Linked DNA regions of Homo sapiens: regions 1 and 2 are each linked to region 3. The links come from fine-mapping of genetic effects on gene expression. Tissue or cell type: whole blood. Region 3 holds a variant in brackets; each other region holds the start of a gene. All regions are shown on one strand. Distances are from middle to middle.

Region 1 (8,000 bases), 250 kb before region 3:
CTTGAGCCCAGGAGTTTGAGACCAGCCTGAACAACAAAGTGAGACCCATCTCTTAAAAAAAAAAAAAATTGAATTAAAAAAAATTTAGCCAGGTAGTACAGTGGTACACATGCCTGTAGTCCCAGCTATTCAGGAGGCTGAAGTTGGAGGAACCCTTGAGCCAGGAAGTTCAAAGTTGCAGTGAACTGTGATCGCACCACTGCACTCCAGCCTGGGCAACAGAGTGAGACCCCGTCTCCAAAAAAAAAAAAAAAAAAAAAGAACATGGATGTAGATGTATGCTTTTTTTTACCAGCTCTGCCCCATATCTCACATAACTTCCCTACCCTGGCTTTCCTCCCATAAAAGGAAAAAGGAAAGGTGATGGACAACAGAGTCTGAAGGGCAAGGTGTGTTCCCATTTGGGGAACCCAGTTAAACCCTTTCCAAAAGAAGCCAGACAATGAGAGTCAATTCATTAAGCTGGGTGACCAGTGGTGGAAGTTGAAGGCCTTGCTCCCTGGACACAGGTTGGAGGGCAGAGTGCTTGGATCTACTTCTTCATGGGGGCAGGAAAGGATTTTAGGTTACCTGGAATATGATGGGAGAGAAGGTGAGAGGACAAAAGCAAAGACAAACAGGGCCCCACCTGCCCAGGTGGAGAGGGCAGAGAAGGCAAAGTGGGCCAAGAACTTTGCCCCACCACAATGGCATCTTTTCTTTTTTTATTATTTTTTTTTATTTTTGAGGCAGAATCTCACTCTGTCGCCCAGGCTGGAGTGCAGTGGTGCAGTTTCAGCTCACTGCAGCCTTGATCTCCTGGGCTCAAGCGATCATCCCACCTCAGCTTCCCGAGTACCTGGGACTATAGGTGCGTACCACCATGCCCGGCTAATTTTTGTATTTTTTTGGAGAGACAGGGTCTCTCTATGTTGCCCAAGCTGGTCTTGAATTCCTGGGCCCAAGCTATCTGCCAGCCTACACCTCCCAAAGTGCTAGGATTACAGGCGTGTGCCATCCCACCCAGCCAATGGTTTCTTTCAGAAGCAACTGAAAAGCCAGGCACAGTGGCTCACCCCTGTAATCCCAGCACTCTGGGAGGCCAAGACGGGTGGATCACTTAAGGTCAGGAGTTCAAGACCAGCCTAACCAACATGGTGAAATCCTATCTCTACCAAAAATACAAAAATTAGCCAGTTATGGTGGCGCACGCATGTAATCCCAGCTACTCGGGAGGCTGAGGCAGGAGAATCGCTTGAACCTGGGAGGCAGAGGCTCCAGTGAGCTGGGTTCACACCACTGTACTCCAGCATGGGTGACAGAGCGAGACTCCATCTCAAAAAAAAAAAAAAAAAGAAGCAAGTGAAGGTAATACATATGGAAACAAAACCTAACAGAGAGAAGTCCCGGGGCTACTGGATGGAAAGAACTCTGAAGCCTGCAAAAGGGCTATGCGGAGAAAGCAAGTCCTAGAGGGGGGCAAAGAAATGAGGGCAGCCAGGCACAGTGGCTCACACCTGTAATTCCAGCACTCTGGGAGGCTGAAATAGGAGGATCACTTGAGCCCAGGAGTTCGAGACCAGCCTGGGCAATGTGGTGAAACCCCATCTCTACAAAAACTTAAAACAGTAGCTGGGTGTGGTGGCACTCACTGGTAGTCCCAGCTACTGGTAAGACTGAGGAGGGAAGATTGCTTGAGACCAGGTCAAGGCTTCAGTGATCACATCCCTGCACTCCAGCCTAGGCGACAGAGTAAAGCCTTGTCTCAAAAAAAAAAAAAAAAAAAAAAGAGAAAAGATTAAGGGCAACCATGATAGATCTTTGTTTTACCACATGAGGGTTTTACATGAGATTGCATCTGCTGTGAATTTCTGAGCACGTGGCATTCCTTAAGTAATCTGGCCTTGACACTTAATTTGCTTTATAAACTTAATTCTCCATAAATAACTGAATCATCAATTCTTGATTACATGAGCAATTGAACAAGAATTATTCCAAACAGGAAATAATCTAACAGTTATTCTGATTTGGTCAGGATTCCTGCTGCCATAGATATTTGGTGCCTCTAGTATTTAGGCTCTTCACAATTCCCTCAAATAAGTAGAATTCTCTAATATTGAGTTAACTTCACATCAGAACTCCATAGTGAACTTGGTCCTGCTGCTTCTTCTGGTGGGAACAAGGACCGCCTCCCAGCGAATAGATGCAAAACATCAGCCCAAATTTGCCTGTTCCCCTCAAACCTTCCCTGGGAGCTGGCCAGAAGGTACCAAAGTTTCTTGCTTTCAAAGGCCTTCTCTTCCAGCTCCAACTCCAGGAGCTATACAAGGTGCAGAATCGAAAAGCGTCATCTGTCTTCAGACAGCTTCAGTAAATATATTTCTCCTTAACAACCTTTCACCTAAGCATCTGGAAATTCAATATCATGTTTCAGGAGGTTAAAGAGGAGAAAGTTCAAATACTCAAGCTCCAATATTCACTTACTCTCAGGGAAGATCTTTGCTTGGAATCCTTTGCCAAAGACAAGATTCTCCAGATTATTGAAGGCCTGGTTGAGGGAGTTAAGGAGTAGGGTGTGCAACGGGGACAGAGCTGTGTGGGGAAGGGGAAGGGCACATGCCTACGTGGCCCGCCCCCTCCAACTGCAGGGAGGATACAGTGAGCGAGAACACGAAGAGACCCGAACCAAGCAGGCCGCCCTGGATGGTGAGCCACTCGGTGGAGGCCAGCTGACGGCTGTACATCTGCATCCCAGCAAAGAGCAGCAGGGACAGGAGGGAGGAGAGCGCCAGCGAGGTGCCCGTACCCACCACTGGAGGGGATGGGAGAAGGGACGGAGAGTCAGGCTCCGCCCTCCCTCCGGCAAGCTACGGGCAGATCAGCCGGTCCGGAAGCTCGGTGGGCCGACCCCCTCCAAGAACTCCCGGGACTGCAGCCACACGCCCCAACTCCCCACACCGCGCGGCAACCCCTACGTATTCCCCAGCCCCGGACACCCCGAACCCTCCCGTCCGGTGGAAATGCCCGCTCCCGGTGGAACCCAGGACACGTCAGCTCTGTCGGGAGAGGACGAGGAAAGCTTGTCCACCCAAACCCCGACCCCCTCTAGGACTTCCTGGGGACCCCACCGGTCCTGTTACCCATCATGCCCCGCCCGTGAGTCCAACCGGCGCCTCTGGCCAAGAAAGGCGAGCTGAACCGGGTGCGGTTAGCTATGCGCATGCGTCAGCGCTTACCGCGGACTTGCTACTCCTCGCGTTCTCCTCTTTCTTCCTCTCAGTGCCTGGACGCAGCGCCCTCTTGCGACAGGGAGGAAATAATGCGTCGAGGGGGCATCCTCGGCCACCGCCCTGGTCCTCAGGCTTTCCTCGTACCTGGTGCGTCTGCTGCCACTCTGTACAAGGTGCACTTATCTCTTTAAGTCATTGGGCCCATGCCTGTGGCATCTATCCCATCTCTGTCTTCTTTGCCATTTCTTTCATCTCTAGTGCACGTTCCTCAAACCTCCCTGCCCCATGCCTCAACATCTCCCAACCTAAAATTTAGTGCTCCCAACCAGGAACTCATTTTCCTCCGAAACTAATCCCCCGCTTTATATGAGTAAAATTAGGAGCCAATGAAAAATGAGAATGTAAGAAATGGCTCCCCCGTCAAATACCTTTCCATATTCCCCAACCCCCCGACCGGCTTTCGAGAACCACGTGGGGAGAACTATTTCCCACCCCCTACCCCGACGGGCGCTGTTCGAGGCTGGTCCCGGGAGCATGCGCAGTGACACCTCAACCCCCAGCCCTCCTCACACCCCCACTGGGCTCCTGCATTAAGCCCGGGGTTCGCAGCCGCAGCCGGGATCGGGCACCCAGGGGCGGGCGGGCACGGTAGGGCCATGGCAGAGGGTGAGGATATGCAGACCTTCACTTCCATCATGGACGCACTGGTCCGCATCAGTGTGAGTTAAGGTGGGGTCGAGGGAAGGGGAGGGGGCGTATAGGGTTCTGGGGCAAGCTGGGACCTGGAACAGGTGGGGATCCAGGAAGATGCTGGGATGTAGACAGGGGGCTAGCGATGGCAGAAACGGCTGGGAGGGTCGGGATGCAGGTATGAGAGGGTAATCCCGGGAGCAGCCCGGAGGTGAGTGCCGTGAAGGCGTCGGTGTGCTGGAGCGTGAGGAGGAGCTAGGAGCAGCCCAGACGCAGCGGGTGGGCTGGGGTGGCCTCCAGCAGTGCACCGGGGCTGGGGCTTCAGGGGAAAGGCCCTGTTATGAGAAGAGGGACGTGTGAGCTTGGATATTTTCCAAGAAAACTGAGGACAGGTGGGGGATGATGTAGGAGCCGCCCCACAGTGCAGTTCCCAATTTGGACCCCTCCCCAAGACCCCACCCCACGCACCCCCACTCAGGGCTGCTTCCGAGCCTGCGGTTGTCATGGCAACCCGTGCCTGGCTCTCCCAGGGGCGGTGCCAACCGTGTTCCCCCCCACCACTTCCTCCCCCCCTCCTTGTTCCTCCCTCCTTTGTGTCAGCTGCGCCCCTGACCGGGATGGCTGCGAAGAGAGGGACCAAGGTGAGGTGTGGGGGTGGGGCATAGCCTGAGGACCCCCACTCTCGCCACCAAGAGGGGGAGGGGACTTCCGGTGGGGAGGGGGCGAGTAGGCGGGGCTCTTGATTCCCCCGCTAGTTCGGAGAAGGGGGTGCCGCTGACCGGGTTGCGCTGCGGGAGAGGGCGGGAGGGCCTGATGGGGGCGAAGGGGAATGGGTTGGTAAGACCGATGGGGAAGTGAAGGATGGGGAATGGAGGCTGGAGTGGCCGCAGGCCGGAGCTGCGGCAGGAGGACGTATGGAGCGAGCAGGATGGAGTGCCAACCTCGCCTGGCTATCGGGAGGAATCACGGCATGGGGGTGCTGCTAGAGAAGGGAGTGGGGGTCTGCATGGAGCTGCAGAATGGGCGGTGTCCTTGAGAAAAATGCCAGGGGCAAGCTGCCCAGAGATGGGGGATGGAGGCAGGTGAGGGGGCTGCCAGCTGGGGCTACTGCAGCTGGAGAAATGGGGATTGGGCTTGAGGCTGGAGCAGGCACAAGCTCCAACCGTCCCTCCTCTGGGCCTTTAGCTCTGCAGCGGGGAAAGAGAAGCAAGGGACAGAGGTCTGGGAAGGTCTGTGAACCAGCCCAAGGCAGGTGCTCTGGAAAAGCTGCAGGTAGCTTGTCTTGCTCCTTCCTCAGACCCCTAGGGTATCCAAGGGCAGCCAAGGGGCTGCTGAGGTATGCCTAAGTGTCCAAGCGCTGACCTAGCCTCCTGGTCCCTCCACAGACCAGCATGAAGAACATGGAGAAGGAACTGCTGTGCCCAGTGTGTCAAGAGATGTACAAGCAGCCACTGGTGCTGCCCTGTACCCACAACGTGTGCCAGGCCTGTGCCCGAGAGGTCTTGGGCCAGCAGGGCTACATAGGACATGGTGGGGACCCCAGCTCCGAGCCCACCTCTCCTGCCTCCACCCCTTCCACCCGCAGCCCCCGCCTCTCCCGCAGAACTCTCCCCAAGCCAGACCGCCTGGACCGGCTGCTTAAGTCAGGTGGGACTGGGGCCTGTAGGGTGGGGATGGGAACGCTGAGCTATTCATCAGGAAGATGGAAGAAGTCCATCACTGGTCAGAGGCATCTGTCTGTCTTTCTGGGGGGTGGAGATACTGCTTACGCAGGCTCTAATGAGAGCTGAGCTCTGGCACAATGAAAATCTAATTTAATTAAACAGGCTTCCCCACACCCAGCCAGCTGTAACTCTCATGTCCTCTACCTCCCTGGTTCACCCACAGGCTTTGGGACATACCCTGGGAGGAAGCGAGGTGCTTTGCACCCCCAAGTGATCATGTTCCCGTGCCCAGCCTGCCAAGGTGATGTGGAGCTTGGGGAGCGGGGTCTGGCAGGGCTTTTCCGGAACCTGACCCTGGAGCGTGTGGTGGAGCGGTACCGCCAGAGTGTGAGTGTGGGAGGTGCCATCCTGTGCCAGTTGTGCAAGCCCCCACCACTAGAGGCCACCAAGGGCTGCACAGAGTGCCGCGCCACCTTCTGCAATGAGTGCTTCAAGCTCTTCCACCCCTGGGGCACCCAGAAGGCCCAGCATGAGCCCACCCTGCCTACCCTCTCCTTCCGACCCAAGGTGAGCCAGCCCTTCCAAGGCCTGGGGAGGGAGGGACATGCTGCTGCAGGTGGGTGGGGGTGCCTGGCATTGTGGGTTTCCAAAAGGAAGTGGGAAGGGTTTTCCAATGCTAAGCACCTATCTCTGTAATCTGTCACAAAGTCACTGGACAAATCATTCAACAACTTTGGGCCTCCATCTCATTTACATCCCTGTAGGGGGATGGTAGTATCTGCCCTGCAATGTCCATACCTAAAGGGTTGCTGAGAGGATGGTGTGAGATAATGTTTGTTCACTAAAAAGTGTTACCTGCACACTGAAAAGGTCTGTGTGCATTCACTCACTGAACAAATATTTATTGAGCACCTATGTGCATGGTGCTATTCTAGGTGTTGGAGATACAGCAGTAAACAAGATGGACAAGGTTAATTATTAACTACCAGGCAAAGATTAATTGGCATCATTATTACTGTTATTACCATATATCCCAATGAGAGAGATGAAGGGAGGTGCAATGCTGGTGAAATGGGCACCGCCCGGAGACTGCAGGAAAGGCTCTTTGATGCCAGTATGTACCACCAGGTGGCACTGTGGAGCACCACCAGCGGATGTCTCCACTCCCATCTTGCCAGTGGAGGAGGGCACCAAACTGCTGTAGTGGTAGCATAGCACCCTTACCCACACCATTGTCTGACCATCACATTGTTCTTTGTGTCCCTAGGGCCTTATGTGCCCAGACCACAAGGAAGAGGTGACCCACTACTGCAAGACATGCCAACGCCTGGTATGTCAACTCTGCCGGGTGCGGCGCACCCACAGCGGGCACAAGATCACACCAGTGCTCAGTGCCTACCAGGCCCTCAAGGTAAGGACCCCCCTTATCCAACCCTAGTGCTAACTCACACTCTTACCCTCTTGCACCTCCTCCCAACTGCTGGCTTCTGCAGAGCTGGGCTTGATGCCCACCTCTTTCTTCCCCCTCAGGACAAGCTGACAAAGAGCCTGACATACATCCTGGGAAACCAGGACACGGTACAGACCCAGATCTGTGAGCTGGAGGAGGCCGTGAGGCACACCGAGGTGAGGGAGGGCACAGAGGTAGGCCCTGGGCCCTGCCTGGGAGTAGGGGCAGGAAGGGGGTGTGGGTGATCATGACCCAATCACCTTGTTGCTAGCTCAGGAAGCCCGTGAGGTGTCCAGGTTCTGGTTAAACCAGGTTTGCAGGAACACCAGTGCCCCAGGCCAGGCTGTACCTGGGCTGCAGGAGGGGGCAGGGTGGCTATAGCTCAGGAGAGTGCTCGAAAAACCCCATGCATAGCTCAAAAAACCCCACGCGTAGCTCAGATGCTCTCAGGCTCAGGTGCCTACCGAGGATGTCACGCATTCCCAGTGCTAGAGTGAGGTGATGACTGATACCTTCTGCCAGGTTGCTTGAGCTGGCTGACATGGGGATGGACAACTAAGGATGGCATAGATGCCAGTGGACATTAATTAGTGCAGTCCAAGTGGACATTAGGGTAGCCATGGCCTCGTTCATTTGGATGAGTCACTAAGGGGCAGAGATTATGATGTGGGGTTCCGGGAAGGTTGGCACAAATGACCAGGAGTTGAGTCCATCTAGAGGTGCCTTTGCAGCCATGAGCCCAGGCCCTGTAGGAATGGGTGAGTAGGATTTCCCCAGATCCCTTGTGACCTTAGCCATGCTGTGGCATCCAAGGAGGCCAGCACAAGTGCTGCCTCCAAAAAGAAGATAGTAAGTCACGCATCCTTTGGGTGTTGCTCCCTGGGCAGGTGAGTGGTCAGCAGGCCAAGGAGGAGGTGTCGCAGCTGGTGCGGGGGCTGGGGGCTGTGCTGGAGGAGAAGCGGGCATCACTGCTTCAGGCCATTGAAG
Region 2 (8,000 bases), 190 kb before region 3:
AATGAAGTCTCGCTGATGTTCAGGGGTGAAGCCCAGGCACTGGAAGGGGTATCCACTCAACAGCCCAGCAGAAGGCTCATTTTCAGCTGTCACTGCCCAGAACTGTAACTTGTGCTCAGCATAGGCATCCAGGAACCTGGCAAGAGAAAGGTCATGAATGATCCGGCCAAGAAAGTGGACCAGACCAGCTGGGTGTGGTGGCTCACACCTGTAATCCCAGCACTTTGGGAAGCCGAGGCAGGTGGATCACTTGAGTTCAGGAGTTCGAGAACAGCCTGGCGAAACCCCGTCTCTACTAAAAATAGAAAAATCAGCTGGGCCTGGTGGCAGGCGCCTATAATCCCAGCTACTTGGAAGGCTGAGGCAGGAGAATTGCTTGAACTCAGGAGGCAGAGGTTACAGTGAGTGAAGATGGCGCCACAGCACTCCAGCCTGGGTGACAGAGAGAGAGACTCCTTCTCAAAAAAAAAAAAAAGAAGAAAAATAAAAAGAAAGTGGGCCAGACCGAGAGAACAGGAAGCCTGATGGAGTGGGCAAGATTGACAGGCCCAAGGCTGAAAGGCCCAGAAGGTAGAAAGGTGAGCTGAGGACAGGCAGATCTGGAAGTGGAACTAGGTTGAGGGTTGGGACACAGATCAGCATGGCTAAATGGGAGGCCAGTCCTGATCCCACATCCTTGCTGATCCCTTACTTCACAAAGTATCTGGCCCAGGTCTGGTGGTAGATGTCTCCGGGCTGTCCCTTGAGTGACCCCTTCCCATTCACCGCTCCATTGGTCTTGAGCCAAGTGGGTGATGTCCAGGGGCTGGCAAGGAGTGAAACGGGACGCTGGGCCAACTGCAGGGCTCGGTGAATCAGGGGTATCTAGAGACAAAGGTAGTGAAGAGAGAAGCACCCAGAGTTGGAACACATACTAGCCCAACCAGTGCATCCGGTTCAGCCATTAGCCTCCACCCTCCCACCCCCAGGACAAAACAGCAGGGGACAAAATGTCTGTACAAGCAGACCTACCCTACAGTTTCTCAACCCCCAGACATCAGGGCCCTCAGGGCCTGAAAAAGCTAGAATGCCTACCTTGAGCTTGGTATCTTCCTCTGGGAGGCTGAAGTTGTGCAACTGGAAATCATCAGGGGTGTCTGCATAGGTGTAGGTGCGGATGGAGAAGTCACAGCTGGCCATGGGTACCCGGATGATGTTATATCCGATTCCTACAGAAAAGGATGATCAAGATATGGTAGTCCGAGTCAATAGGAGAGTATGGGACTCTGCTTATCACTTGCCAGTCCTAATAGTGTCTGAGTCAGGGCCAAAGGGAACTTGGGCTCCTGGGTTGGAACCTGTGGAGGCTGGCACCTGGGTGAAGCGCAGGCCTTTCTGAGCCTGAGTCCGTAGCAGTTAGCAGATGATAGGCGGTGAAATCTTATTTCACAGGGCATTAAAACAGGAACCAAATGTCAGGGATGGGCAGAAGTCAGGGTCCAAAGAAAGGGCAAAGAAAAGTGTCAGTGGCTCACGCATGTAATCCCAGCACTTTGGGAGGCCGATGTGGGCAGATCACGAGGTCAGGAGTTCGCAATCATCCTGGCCAACATAGTGAAACCCTGTCTCTACTAAAAATACAAAAAATTAGCCGGGCGTGGTGGCAGGCACCTGTAATCCCAGGTACTCGAGAGGCTGAGACAGGAGAATCACCTGAACCCGGGAGGTGGAGGTTGCAGTGAGCTGAGATTGTGCCACTGCACTCCAGCCTGGGTGACAGTGCGAGACTCTGTCTCAAAAAAAAAAAAAGAAAAAAGAAAAGTGTCTGCTGGGCTCGGTGGCTCACACTTGTAATTCCAGCACTTCGGGAGGCCAAGGCAGGTATATCATTTGAGGTCAGGAGTTTAAGACTAGCCTGGTCAACATGATGAAACCCTGTCTCTACTAAAAATACAAAAATTAGCCAGGTGGTAGTGGCGCACGCCTATAATTCCAGCTACTCAGGAGGCTGAGGCAGGAGAATCACTATAGCCTGGGAGGCAGAGGTTGCTGTGAGGGGAGATCACACCACTGCACTCCTGTCTCGCCGACAGAATGGGCAGAGTGAGATTCTGCCTCAAAAAAATTTTAAAAAAAGAAAAGAAAAACGAAAAGTTTCAATGGCTCTATGTCATCTTGTCCCCTTCCTCCTCACCTTCTTCAGAGAAGTACGATTTAAGTAGCAAATTTTGGGCAGGGGGTGACAGGGCAAGGATGTTGAGAGCAGCAGCATCTGTCATGGCCCCTCCAAATCCCTTCACTTTCTGGAACTTCTGTTCTGGCTGCAGGGTCAGTAGCAGGCCTGAGGACATCCACAGGGAATAAGGGTATCAGTACCCAGCGGGAAACTCCATGGTGATCACTGACACCATTTACCTCTAGGAGGACCCAGCCTGGCCCAGGGGGTGAGGGGTGTAATGGTTACCTGTGCCCGTGTGATTAGCCTGGATGGGCCCCATACTCAGCTCCATCCGTCGCCCACTGCGTGTACTCTCATAGCGGCTGAAGGTACCAAGGGCAGGAAAGGTCGGGGGGTCAAAGGAGTCACAGTATGTGGCATTGCAGACACACACCACCGAGCTGTAGCCGAAGCTTTTAGGGATGCAGGGGCGGGCACCTGGGAGGGAGGGAGTACAAGCAGAGTGAGGTCTGATGAAGACATGGAGAATGGACACATCTGCTAGGAGAGACTGAACACGGTTTCAAAATTCCTCACCCCTTGGCCGGGCGCAGGGGCTCACACCTGTAATCCTAGCACTTTAGGAGGCCGAGGTGGGCGGATCACCTGAGGTGAGGAGTTTGAGACCTGCCTTGCCAGCATGGTGAAACCCCGTCTCTACTAAAAATACAAAAATTAGCTGGGCGTAGTGGTGGCCGCCTGTAATCCCAGCTACCTGGGAAGCTGAAGCAAGAGAATCGCTTGAATCTGGGAGGCAGAGGTTGGAATGAGCCAAAATTGCACCACTGCACTCCAGCCCAGGCAACAGAGTAAGACTCTGTTTCAAAAGAAAAAAAACAAAATCCTCACCCCAAAGTTGGTCTCAGTCACTCAAAAGGATTTATTGAGCACCTACTAAAAGTCTACCACCAGCTTACTGGAAGGCTACCAAAGGACTATGAGGCAGAAGGGAGGCTCTGTGCTACCTCCCCACTGCCTTGACTCACTCACCTGATGCCCACGACACTGCCTGAAGTAGAAGCAATCCTGTGAGGCTGCCAGCCATGATGCTTACCCTACTCAAAGGCTTGGGACATTCCTGAGGACAGAATGAGGAATGACTGAAAAGCAAGCCCCTCTCCACCCCTCAACTACTCTCCTGGGCAGGGCTTAGCTGCCTTTGGGTGCCCATGGCCCGGTCTCCCACATTCATTAGGACAAGGCCCACAGAAACCTGGGTGCAGCTCTCCCTGCAACCCTTCTGATGACAACTCTCTGCCCACCCCAAATCAGGATGCTCCCCACCACTCTTCCCACCCATTTCAACTTCGACCCCTCCCTCCATCTGTGCCTTGCTCAAAGAGCCATGATGGCCCTGGATTCAAAGAGAGTCTGTCATTCATTAAATTCCAGTGCCAGGATTCCAGAAGCACTGTGACAATGCTGATTGGGAGCTCTCTCTCTTACCTCTCTGGAAGGACTTGAAAACTCCATCCCCTCAGGGTCATTAGATGAAGAGAAGACCACAGGGGTTCCAGAGTCTCTGAAGGATAGAGGATCCACTAAACAAAAACAAGGATGCAGGTACCTGCCTTAGCTATAGGCACTAGGTTAGCCCTGCAAGTAATTCCGGCTTCCCGATGTGGATGGGTCATGTGATGACTAGGAGCGTCACATGACACAGGAAGTGAGGCAATCACAGCCATATTTCTAAAGGGCAATTGGCTTCCTCTCATCTGTTACAGATTATATGCCCTATAAAACTCTGGAGGGCATGTATGGGTGACAACTTTAGGAAGAGCCTAGAACACAGATTTGCATGGAGAATGGGGTAGAGGCTCCTAAATCCCAGAGGATGGGAACCACAGCAGGCACACTTCTTTTTTGATAGAAATGTCAAAAAGGTACAAATAAAGCTGATATAATTTAAAAAAAAAAACTTCACTGTGCAAAATACTGACACTACCAAGATGTTTAAGACAGTCTTTGCCCTATAGAGGTGTGTGAGGCATGGAAGTCAGACACACAGATATTTACAGATAAAGACAGAAACGGTAACAGGTGTGCATGGAGAGCTCTCTGAGATGAGGAGGGACCATTCGTGGGTGGGGAATTATCCAGGATGGCTTCACAGAGGAAAAAGTGAGGGGGGTTATTAGCCAGTGAAGTGCAGGGCACAAGAGGGTGGGACACTGGCAGTGGGATGACAGGACTGGAGGGAGGGAGTGGTCAGTGCGGCTCCTCTGCAGCGTCCCTTGTTTCATCATCAGATGCAGATGGTAATAACTGTTCTTCCTTCCTCACAAGACAGGGAGGTTTGTAAAGTCGTTCAAAAACCAAAGTGTTGTACAAAGCCATATCCTCAGTGGACACAAGGAGGAAGCTGTCCATGGTGTGGCCTCATGAACCACATCAAATGAGATTTAGCGGGAGTGGCACACACAGTCATGACCTGACTAATCCCAGCTCTCAGCCCATTTCCTTGCCTGGAAAATGGAGGCAATGCCACAACCTCAAAGGGTGGTTACTGCAGTCAGTGAGGTAAGTGCAGTGCCTGACCACTTGGTAGGCACCTGGGAACTACTTGTCTCTTGTTTGTATTTTTTGTTGTTGTTGTTTTTTGAGACAGAGTCTCACTCTGTTGCCCAGGCTGGAGTGCAGTGGCGTGATCTTGGCTCACTGCAACCTCCACCTCCTGGGTTCGAGTGATTCTCCTGCCTCAGCCTCCCAAGTAGCTGGGATTACAGGTGCCCTCCAACATGCTCAGCTAATTTTTTTATTTTTAGTAGAGATGGGGTTTCACTATGTTGGCCAGGCTGGTCTGAAACTCTGGACCTCAGGTGATCTGCTGCCTTGGTATCCGAAAGTGCTGGGATTACAGGCATGAGCCACTGCGCTGGACCCCAGCCATCCTTTTTGTTCTTTAAATGATCTCAGTGAAGTCTTTCTAGATACACTCCAAGCAAAATTGATCATTTCTTCTTCTAGGTTCCTCCAGTAATTTTTTTTTTTTTGGTTTTGAGACAGAGTCTTGCCCTGTTGCCCAGGCTGGAGTGCAGTGTGATCTCGGCTCAAGCAATTGCCCTGCCTCAGCCTCCTGAGTAGCTGGGATTACAGGAGCCCACCACCATGCCCAGCTAATTTTTGTATTTTTAGTAGAGATGGGGTTTCACCATGTTGGCCAGGCTGGTCTCGAACCCCTGACCTCAGGTGATCCACCAGCCTCAGCCTCCCAAGGTGTTGGGATTATAGCAATGAGCCACCACACCCGGTCCCTCCAGTAATTAAGTACAGTCTCAGTGAGACAGCAAGTTTGGAATCCTGGCTACACCATTTACTGGCTGTTTGACTTTCAATAAATCAATCACTCTAAGCCTCTGTTTCATCTATAAAAGGGGAGTGATAACTCCTACCTCACAGAATTGTTGTGAGGTTTGAGTGTGATAATGTGTCTCTAGTACACTGCTTGACACTAAACATTGCAACATGTCAGGCCTCTGTTCCTGGAGTTCCTTGAAGGAATGTCTTATGCATTCTAAGTATCCTCGTAGATAGCCTGGCACAGGGGTAGCTGTCAAGTTGTAGAATTGAACTAGTTGCTTCACTATGTCAGTAGCCACCCCTTCCAGACTTCTCACTTTTCAAGGAAACATTGCACAGGATTTGTTCTGGGTAGGGCAGGTAATATCTAGTACCTTACTTCCCTCAAGTTCATTCATCTCACAGATATTTCCTGAGCACATTCTACATTTGCCTCTCCTGCTCTATTGAGTTTAGAAGTCCAAACATCTCCTTCCACTTCCCCTCTGCATAGTGAGCCTCTTCTTTTTTGGCCAGGTACTGAGCAATTTTTTGTTTGTTTGTTTGAGACAGGGTCTCCGTATGTTGCCCTGGATGGAGTGTAGTAGCTTGATTTCGGCTCAGTGCAACCTCTGCCTCCAGAATAAGCAATCCTCCCACCTCAGCCTCCAGAATAGCTGGGACTATAGGCGCACACCACCACACCTGGCTAATTTCTGTATTTTTTGTAGAGACGGGGTCTTACTGTGTTGCGCAGGTTGGTCTCAAACTCCTAAACTCAAAGGATCCTCCCGCCTTGGCTTTGCAAAGTGCTGGGATTACAGGGTGAGGCACTGCGCCCAGTCCGCTTGTTTTTTGTTTTGTTTTTTTTTTTGAGACGGAGTATCTCTGTCACCCAGGCTGGAGTGCAGTGGCACGATCTCGGTTCACTGCAACCTCCGCCTCCTAGGTTCAAGCGGAGGGTAGGGACCAGTCCATCCTGGCACCCATCTGCAGCTCCAGTGCGAATCCCAACCCCGACGCTCGTCGCCGGGCTCCGTGAATGTTTGTCACATGTCTGAAGAACGTATGAATTACATAACCTTCTTCCCACTCCACCCCTCAAAAAGCAAGTGGATATAAAGACTTGAAGATTTTATAATCTCTTCTTCATTAGTAAAATCTGACCATCCTTACCGTTAAAAATAATAATGATGGTTGGCCGGGCGCGGTGGCTCACGCCTATAATCACAGCTGTTTGGCAGGCCGAGGCGGGCGGATCACGAGGTCAGGAATTGGAGACCAGCCTGACCAACATGGTGAAACCCCGTCTCTACTAAAAGATACAAAAAATTAGCCGTGCGTGGTGGCGGGTGCCTGTAATCCCACGTACTTGGGAGGCTGAGGTCGGAGAATCGCCTGAACCCGGGAGGCGGAGGTTGCAGTGAGCCAAGAAGGCGCCATTACACTCCAGCCTGGGCGACAGGGCGAGACTCCCTCAAAAAATAATAATAATAACAATAATAATAATAATGGTGAAAAAGGTTAAGTGCGAACGCAGGGAGGGGACAGCTAAGATCCAAAGGTCGAAATATTCATTACGCCTACCGTCGGCGAAGAGAAACAGCAGCCCCAACCGGAGGCAAAACGAAATCCCACCGCAGCCTGCAAAGGCGCCTGGGCGGGACTGGAGACTGGGGCCCCGCGCAGTAAGACTCTGAAGGCAGGATGCAGCCCGACCACCCGCAGCCGCGAGAAAAGCAGCCCTGGGGAGTCGGGGCGGGACCTGGATTGGAAAAGAGACGGTCACTCATGCAGAGGCGGGACTCAGAGCCCTTCCTCAAGTCTCATTGGTCAAGTTGAACGAACAAGTGTCGCTGGCGAGCCGGAGAGAGAGAGAGAGCGAGAGCGAGAGAGCGAGCGAGAGAGAGCGAGAGAGCGAGAGAGCGAGCGAGAGAGAGAGAGAGAGAGAGAGGAGCCGGCGCGAGAACTACGCATGCGTGTCGGCGTTTTCCCGCCAGCACACTGTTGGTGGATGGGGGCGATTGAATTCCCACAGTGAGTCCAGCCCACCGAAGCTCAGAGGATTCCTAACCTTCCTCTTTAGAGAGCCTCAGGTTAGGGAACGTCCAGTGCGCAGAAGCTGCCCCGTGGGAATCCCATTGTCCATCGCCTCCTAATGTTTCGTCCTGGCCGTGCCCTATCCCTTCCTGAGGCTGGGTTGTTATGATGCTGAATTATTCAAGAAGTCTTGCAGCCTGACGCCATCTCTGGGCAGTGCTCCTCCCACCTCCCTGTCTTCCTTGGAGGGCACCACGTTGCCCCTACAAGCACAGGGTCCTGAAGCTGTTTACAGGGCCCCACCCTGCCACTTTAGTATCTTAACGAATGTTTGTTGAGGACCTACTGAGTGTTAGACCCACTGCAATGAGCAAGTTTCTGATCTTGGGACCTTAACATTCTATGGGACGACACAGATATATAAACAAAAATAATAATTTTAGATAGTGATACATGCTGAAACCATGGGTATGTGGCCAGGCGC
Region 3 (8,235 bases):
CATGTATAGTTTGTGTTTGTAAATTTTGATAAATTTTAACTTTTTATTTGAGACAGAGTCTTGCTTTTTTGCCCAGGCTGGAGTGCAATGGCATGATGTTGGCTCACTGCAACCTTCGCTACCCAGGGTTCAAATGATTCTGCCTCAGCCTCACAAGTAGCTGGGAGTATAGACACCCACCACCTCACCTGGCTAGTTTTTGTGTTTTTTTTTTGAGACAGAGCCTTACTCTGTGGCCAGGCTGGAGTGCATTGGAGCAACATCAGCTCACTGCAATCTCCGCCTCCCAGGTTCAAGTTATTCTCCTGCCTCAGCCTCCTCAGTAGCTGTGATTAAAGGCATGCACAACCATGCCCGGCTAATTTTTGTATTTTTAGTAGAGACAGGGTCACCATGTTGGTCAGGCTGGTCTCGAACTCGAACTCCTGACCTCAAGTGATCCACCCACCTTGGTCTCCCAAAAGTGCTGGGATTACAGGCATGGGCCACCACGCCCGGCCTAGTTTTTTTTTTTTTTTTTTGAGACAGAGTCTTCCTCTGTCGCCCAGGCTGGAGTGCAGTGGCGCGATCTCGGATCACTGCAGCTTCTGCCTCCTGGGTTCAAGTGATTTTCCTGCCTCAGCCTCCAGGTAGCTGGGATTACAGGCACTCACCATCATGCAGGGCTATTTTTTTTTTTTTTGAGGTGGAGTCTCGCTCTGTTGCCCAGGCTGGAGTGCAATGGTGCGATCTTGGCTCACTGCAATCTCTGCCTCCTGGGTTCAAGCGATTCTCCTGCCTCAGACTCCTAAGTAGCTGGGATTACAGGCATGTGCCACCATGCTTAATTTTTTGTATTTTTAGTAGAGACCAGGTTTCACCATGTTGGTCAGGCTGGTCTTGAACTCCTGACCTCATGATCTGCCTGCCTTGGCCTCCCAAAGTGCTGGGATTACAGGCGTGAGCCACCACACCCGGCCAAGCAGGGCTAATTTTTTTATTTTTAGTAGAGAAGAGGTTTCACCACGTTGGCCAGGCTGGCTCGAACTCCTGACCTCAGGTGATCCACCCACCTCAGCCTCCCAAAGTACCAGGATTACAGGTGGGAGCCCCCATGCCTGGCCTAATTTTTTTTGTGGTGTTTTTTTTTTTTGAGACGGAGTCTCGCTCTGTCACCCAGGCTGCAGTGCAGTGGCGCGATCTCGGCTCACTGCAAGCTCTGCCTCCTGGGTTCACGCCATTCTCCTGCCTCAGCCTCCCAAGTAGCTGGGACTACAGGCGCCTGCCACCATGCCCGGCTAATTTTATTTATTTATTTATTTATTTTTTAAGACAGGGTCTCACTCTGTCACCCAGGCTGGAGTGCAATGGCACGATCTTGGCTCACTGCAACCTCTGCCTCCCAGGTTCAAGTGATTCTCCTGCCTCAGCCTCCCTAGTAGCTGGGATTACAGGAGTGTGCCATCATGCCCGGCTAATTTTTTTTTTTGTATTTTAGTAGAGATGGGGTTTCACCATGTTGCCCAGGCTGGTCTCGAACTCCTGAGCTCAAGCAATCCACCTGCCTTGGCCTCCCAAAGTGCTAGGATTACAGGCATGAGCCACCGCACCCAGCTTTTTGTATTTTTTAGTAGAGACGGGGTTTCACCGTGTTAGCCAGGATGGTCTCGATCTCCTGACCTCGTGATCCGACCGCCTCGGCCTCCCAAAGTGCTGGGATTACAGGCGTGAGACACCGCGCCTGGCCCATTAATTTTTATATTTTTAATAGAGATAGGGTTTCACCATGTTGGCCAGGATAGTCTCGAACTTCTGACCTCAGGTGATCTGCCCACATCAGACTCCCAGTGAAATTTTAACTTTTTATAATAGATTTGTGTATATCTTATGTCTTTCTGCAAACAATAAAATGGATTAACATCTACAAATATTTTATCCGTTCATGACATACTTTTTAATTTTTTTGACTATTTCTAGGCTACACCTACTATGTATCCACAAAAAATAAAAATTAAAAACTAAAAAATTTTTTTCTAGGCTACACAGTTCATCTGTGAGTTTAAGTATCGCAAATCTCAAATCTGTGTTGTTCAAGGGTCAACTGTATTTAATCAACTGGGAGTTGATTTTTTGTATAGAGGATAAGACAGAATCCAATTTCCTTCTGATCCCCAGGGATTTCAACTTACTGGGCACAATTTGTTGAACAGTTCTTTATATGCCTCTGTTACCCAGCAAGCTTCCATATATGTGTAGGTCTGTTTCTTTTATCTATTCAATTCCACACCACCTTAATACTCCATAGCTTGAAATTAAGTCTTGGGACAAATCCTTTATTTTATTCAGTAATTACCTTTCCAGGTATATACTCTGATATAATTTTTTTTTTTTTTTTTTTTGAGACAGAGTCTCGCTCTGTCACCCAGGCTGGAGTGAAGTGGTCTGATCTCAGCTCACTGCAACCTTCACCTCCAAGGTTCTAGCAATTCTGCTGCCTCAGCCTCATGAGTAGCTGGGATTACAGGCATGCAGCACCACACCTGGCTAATTTTAATTTTTCTTTTTTTTTTTGAGATGGAGTCCCGCTCTTGTTGCCCAGGCTGGAGTGCAGTGGCCAGATCCCGGCTCACTGCAACCTCCGCCTCCCGGGTCCAAGCGATTGTCCTGCCTCAGGCTCCTGAGTAGCTGGGACTATAGGCGCCCACCACCTGGCTAATTTTTGTACTTTTTAGTAGAGACAGGGTTTCGCCGTGTTGGCCAGGCTGGTCTCAAATTCCTGACCTCAGGTGATCCGCCCACCTCGGCCTCCCAAAATGCTGGGATTACAGGCAAGAGCGACTGCGCCCGGCTAATTTTTCTATTTTTAGTAGAGATGGGTGTTCACTATGTTGGCCAGGCTGGTCTTAAACTCCTGACCTCAGGTGATCCACCCACCTCGGCCTCCCAAATTGCTGGGATTACAGGCACAAGCCACTGCACCCGGCCCCTGATACAGTTTGGATGTGCGCCCTGCCCACATCTCACGCTGGAATGTAATCACCAATATTGGTGGTGAGACCTGGTGGGAGGTGACTGGACCATGGGGGTGGTTTTCTCTTAAGCAGTTTAGCACCATCCCCCGATGCTGTCGTTGCCATAGTGAGTGAGTTCTGTTGAGATCTGGTGCTTTAAAAAGTGTATGGCACTTCGTCCTTCTCCTTCTTGCTCCTGCTCTAGCCCTGTAACCAGTATACTCCCCATGACTGTAAGTTTCCTGAAGCCTCCCCAGAAGCCTAGGAGATGCCAGCATCATGCTTACTATACAGCCTGCAGGACCATGAACGAATTAAACCTCTTTTCTTTATAAATTACCCAGTCTCAGGTATTTATAGCAATGTGAGAACAAATTAGTATAATGCCTTAAGTCTGGGTGCAGTGGCTCACGCCTGTAATCCCAGCA[C/A]TTTGGGAGGCCAAGGCAGGTGGATCACCTGAGGTCAGGAGTTCAAGACCAGCCTGACCAACATGGTGAAACCCCGTCTCTACTAAAAGTACAAAAAAATTAGCCGGGTGTGGTGGTGGGCGCCTCTAATCCCAGCTACTCGGGAGACTGAGGGCAGGAGAATTGCTTGAACCCAGGAGATGGAGGTTGCAGTAAGCCGAGATTGTGCCACTGCACTCTAGCTTAGGCGACAACAATGAAATTCCGTCTCAAAAAAAAAAATATATATATATATGTTGGGAACAGGCCCCCCAAAATCTGGCCATAAACTGGCCCCAAAACTGGCCATAAACAAAATCTCTTCAGCACTGTGACATGTTCATGATGGCCATGACACCCACGCTGGAAGGCTGTGGGTTTACCAGAATAAGGGCAAGAAACACCTGGCCCACCCAGGCTGGAAAACCGCTTAAAGGCGTTCTTAAACCACAAACAATAGCATGAGCGATCTGTGCCTTAAGGACATGCTCCTGCTGCAGGTAACTGGCCAAACCCATCCCTTTATTTCGGCCCATCCCTTTGTTTCCCATAAGAGATACTTTTAGTTAATCCCGTTTCCCATAAGGGATACTTTTAGTTAATCTAATATCTATAGAAACAATGCTAATGACTGGCTTGCTGTTAATAAATACGCGGGTAAATCTCTGTTCGGGGCTCTCAGCTCTGAAGGCTGTGAGACCCGATTTCCCACTTCACACCTCTATATTTCTGTGTGTGTGTCTTTAATTCCTCTAGCGCCACTGGGTTAGGGTCTCCCCGACCGAGCTGGTCTCGGCATATATATATATACAATGCTTTAGAGAAATTAGTGTCCATATCCACCAGTGGACATTAGAGGAATATTAAAAGCAGTTTTTTTGGGCAATAACCTCAAGTTGAAAATAATCCAAGAGTAAAATCGAAGAACTGTATTACACACAAACAATGAAACAACACATTAAAACTACAGCAACATGCATTAACATACATAATTTAACATGACTATGTTGAGCAAAAAAAGGTGAGACACAATAGTATATGTCCTCTGTAATTAATTTTGTTTGTTTGTTTTTGCTTTTTTGAGACAGGGTCTCACTCTGTCACCCTGGGTGGATTGCAGTGATGTGATCTTGGCTCACTGCAATCTCTACCTCCTGGGCTCAAGTGATTCTCCCACTTGGCTTCCTGAGTAGCTAGGACTACAGGCGTGTGCTACCACAACTGGCTAACTTTTTGTATTCTTAGTAGAGACGATGTTGCCTAGGCTACTCTCAAACTCCTGGGTTCAAGCGATCCACACGCCTCGGCTTCCAAAATTGCTGAAATTACAGGCATGATATGGCACCCAACCTGTATAATTAGATTTACATGAAATTCAGGAAGAATAAGCTGTATTGTTTAGAGCTGCACACATAAATAGTATTTTAAAAGGTAAATATGTGGTTACCTTAAAAGTCAGAAGATTGGTTATAGCTTCTGGCAAGAAAAGGGGTTTACAAACAGGGAAAGTATGGTCACCTCCTGAATATTTATATGGGTACGACCTCTACAGAAAATTTACTTAGCTTATGTTATGTATTCTCTTGTTTGTCTCTTATTTGTTTTTTAAGACAGGTTCTCGCTTTGTCACCCAGGATGGAATGTGGTGGCACGATTATGGCTCACTGTAGCCTCGACCTCCTGGACAAGCTCAAGCAATCCCTTAACACCTCAGCCTCCCTAGTAGCTGGGACTACAGGCACACATCAGCACGTCCAGCTGATTTTTAAGTTTTTTTTTTTTTGAGACAGAGTCTCACTCTGTCGCCCAGGCTGGAGCGCACTGATGCGATCTCAGCTCACTGCAACCTCCGCCTGCCAGGTTCAAGCAATTCTCCTGCCTCAGCCTCCCGAGTAGCTGGGATTACAGGCATGCGCCACCACACTTGGCTGATTTTTAAGTTTTTTGTAGAGATGGAGTTTCCCTATGTTGCCCAGGGTGGTCTTCAACCCCTGGGCTCCAGCAATACTCCTGCCTCTGCCTCCCAAAATGCTGGGACTACAGGTGTGAGCCACCTCATCTGGCCTGTTTATGTATTCTCTTTAGATGTATCCTCTTCTGTTTGCAGCCCATATTCTCTTTAATGAGATGGGAATAATATTTTTCTTGAAAGTGTGGTAGAAGTTAAAATTGGGTCTGATGCTGTTCTTGGGGCAAGACTTTAAATAATAGATTCAATTTAGGCAATAGGAGTGCTCAGGTAATTTCTTTTGAGTATGTTTTGTTAAAATTGTATTTTTCTAGGAACATGTCCATTTCAACAGTTTTCCCATTTGATGGGCTTAAAGTTCTCACAGTAGTAAATTTTTAATCTCTTATATACACTTTATTTCCTTTTAAATCCCTATTTATTCCCTTTCTCATTCCTATTGATCGGCTTTACCAGAAGTTTGTCTATTTTATTAGTTTTCAAAGAACTTTGGTCTTAAAAGTGACTCTTACTGTTATACATTTGCCTTATTTTATTAACTTAAGGTGTATGTTTTACATTCTTCCAATATCATTTTCAGGCTCATTCACTTGTTCTTTTAATTTCTTATTTTCATAAAATTGTTTTTAGAAATAGGGTTTTGCCATTGCCCAAGCTGGTCTCAAACTCCTGGGTTCAACCAATCCTCCAGCCTCAGCCTCCAGAGTAGCTGAGACTATTGGTGTGGCCAGCAAGCTCTTAACAATTTTTTTCGGTCAGGTGTGGTAGCTCACGCCTGTAATCCCAGCACTTTGGGAGGCCAAGGTGGGCAGACTTGAGGTCAGGAGTTCGAGACCACCCTGGCCTATATGGTGAAACCCTGTCTCTACTAAAAATGCAAAAATTAGCCGGGCATGGTGGCAGGACCTGTAATCCCAGCTACTCCAGAGGCTGAGGCAGGAAAATCGCTAGAACCCAAGAGGTGGAGGTTGCAGTGAGCCAAGCCATTGTACTCCAGCCTGGGCAACAGAGCAAGATGCCGTCTCAACAACAACAAAAATATATATATATATAATATTTACATATAATATACATTATAAGATACATATTTTTAGAGACAAAGTCTTGCTATAATATATATGTATTTTTAGAGGCAAGGTCACACTCTGTCACCAAGGCTGGAGTGCAGTGAAGGAACACAGCTCATTGCAGCCTCAACCTCCTGAGTGCAAGTGATCCTCCCACCTCAGCCTCCCAAGTAGCTAGAACCACAGACACGAGCCACCACGCTCATTTAATTTTTAAATGTTTTGTAGAGATGGACCAGGTGCGGTGCTCACACCTGTAATCTTAGCACTTTGGGAGGTCAAGTTGAGAGGATCGCTTGAGTGCAGGAGTTCAAAACCAGCCTGGGTAACATAGTGAGACCCCATCTCTACAAAAAACACAAAAATTAGCCAGGCCTGGTGGCCCCCGCCTGCAGTCCCAGCCACTGTGGGGGAGGGATGGGGGTGGAGACGCTTGAGCCCGGGAGGTGGAGGTTGCAGTGAACTGAGATTGTGCCACTGTAGTCCAGCCTGGGGGACGCAGCAAGACCCTGTCTAAAATAAACAAACAAACAAACAGTTCTTTGTAGAAACGGTAGCTACAACCAGCCACACTGCTCAGGCTGTCTTGAACTCCTGGCCTCAAGTGATCCTCCTGCCTCAGCCTGACAAACTGCTGGGATTACAGGTGTGAGCCACCACACCTGGCCTGATTTTATTTTTTACAGCAAAAATTTATAAGTGTTTTAAAAATATACCTTTTTCTTTTTAAAACCAGGATTTGAACCTAGGTTTTCCGAGTCTAGAAGCCCACCTCATAACCATTAAATTCTTCCTGTGCATTCTGGTTTTATATTAATCAACAAATAGTGACCAAAATCTTTAATATATCATACAAGGTTCTTGGCACAATCTGATCCCTACAACCTCTATCTGTATCCCATGCTACTCTACTCCATGTTTTGACCACAAAAGCTTTCTTTCGCTTGCCTGAAACTATCATGCTTTTTCAGACTTTTGTGTATGCTCTCTCCTCACTCCTTTAAATAACAGATGAAGCCTATTCTTCACATTTTTAGCATAGTCCTTACTTTTTCTGGGAAACTAAGTTAGTTATTTCTATTATATACAGTACTCTTATAACTCTAAGTAACTCTTCATAATAGCACTTGGATGGTTAAAATCCATGAAGGTAGGAAAAGTTTCTAGATTTATTCACCACTCTATCAATTCTAAGTACATGAAACATAATAATCTTCCAACAAATACTAATTGAAAAAATAAATGAATACATATTATATAACAAGTACTAGTGTAAGCTCCAATTAGAACAAGTTGAAAAACTGTTGCTATCTCTGGGAACTCAGTGTGTCATGTCCTTCCCTACACAATCTCTTGAGGGCAGAAATTTTATCTTTCTCTTTATAATCTCTTCAAATCTCAGAATACAATCTTGTGAAAAAGTATGTGTTTAATTTTGCTGACCATGATACTAGAATTTGCTGGAATAGAAAGGCTAACCTATTCAAAAGCCTTTTTTGTCGTTGTTGAGACGAAGTCTTACTCTGTCATCCAGGTTGGAGTGCAGTGGTACAATCTAGGCTCACTGCAACCTCTGCTTCCCTGGCTCAAGCGATCCCCCCACCTCAGCCTCCCAAGTAGCTGGGACCACAGGCGTGCAACACCACCACGCCCAGCTAATTTATTGTATTTTTTGGTAAAGACGGGGTTTCACCATGTTACCCAGGCTGATGAAAGCCTTTTCTTGAAGCACATTTTAAAGATGACCCTTCCTAACATAAATG

Evidence for each region. PIP is the estimated chance that this variant, and not a neighbour inherited with it, causes the effect.
Region 1: it holds the start of TRIM46, and the variant in region 3 is fine-mapped to the expression of TRIM46 in whole blood (TOPMed, PIP above 0.99). The same link has a PIP of 0.9 or more in blood mononuclear cells.
Region 2: it holds the start of GBA1, and the variant in region 3 is fine-mapped to the expression of GBA1 in whole blood (TOPMed, PIP above 0.99).

The regions. Positions count from the first base shown.
Region 1 is chr1:155,170,102-155,178,101 of GRCh38, forward strand. It overlaps TRIM46 (tripartite motif containing 46), which reads left to right and starts at 3,748. Exons shown (of 10, transcript NM_025058.5): 1 at 3,748-3,928; 2 at 5,285-5,546; 3 at 5,787-6,130; 4 at 6,831-6,974; 5 at 7,094-7,189; 6 at 7,901-8,000. The coding sequence starts at 3,866. KRTCAP2 (keratinocyte associated protein 2) reads right to left here and starts at 3,203. Exons shown (of 5, transcript NM_173852.4): 1 at 3,120-3,203; 2 at 2,637-2,791; 3 at 2,464-2,527. The coding sequence starts at 3,123. RefSeq lists enhancers at 2,583-2,862, 2,966-3,474, 3,053-3,152, 3,353-3,402, 3,475-3,983 and silencers at 3,733-3,822, 3,992-4,286.
Region 2 is chr1:155,237,443-155,245,442 of GRCh38, forward strand. It overlaps GBA1 (glucosylceramidase beta 1), which reads right to left and starts at 3,807. Exons shown (of 11, transcript NM_000157.4): 1 at 3,644-3,807; 2 at 3,188-3,275; 3 at 2,444-2,635; 4 at 2,174-2,320; 5 at 1,075-1,208; 6 at 692-864; 7 at 1-136. The coding sequence starts at 3,670. RefSeq lists an enhancer at 6,352-7,315.
Region 3 is chr1:155,424,775-155,433,009 of GRCh38, forward strand. All of the region lies in intron 5 of ASH1L (ASH1 like histone lysine methyltransferase), which reads right to left. Among named protein-coding and RNA genes, the nearest start is that of MIR555, 82 kb to the left of the region's middle. The variant C/A (reference allele first, on the strand shown) is at 3,419.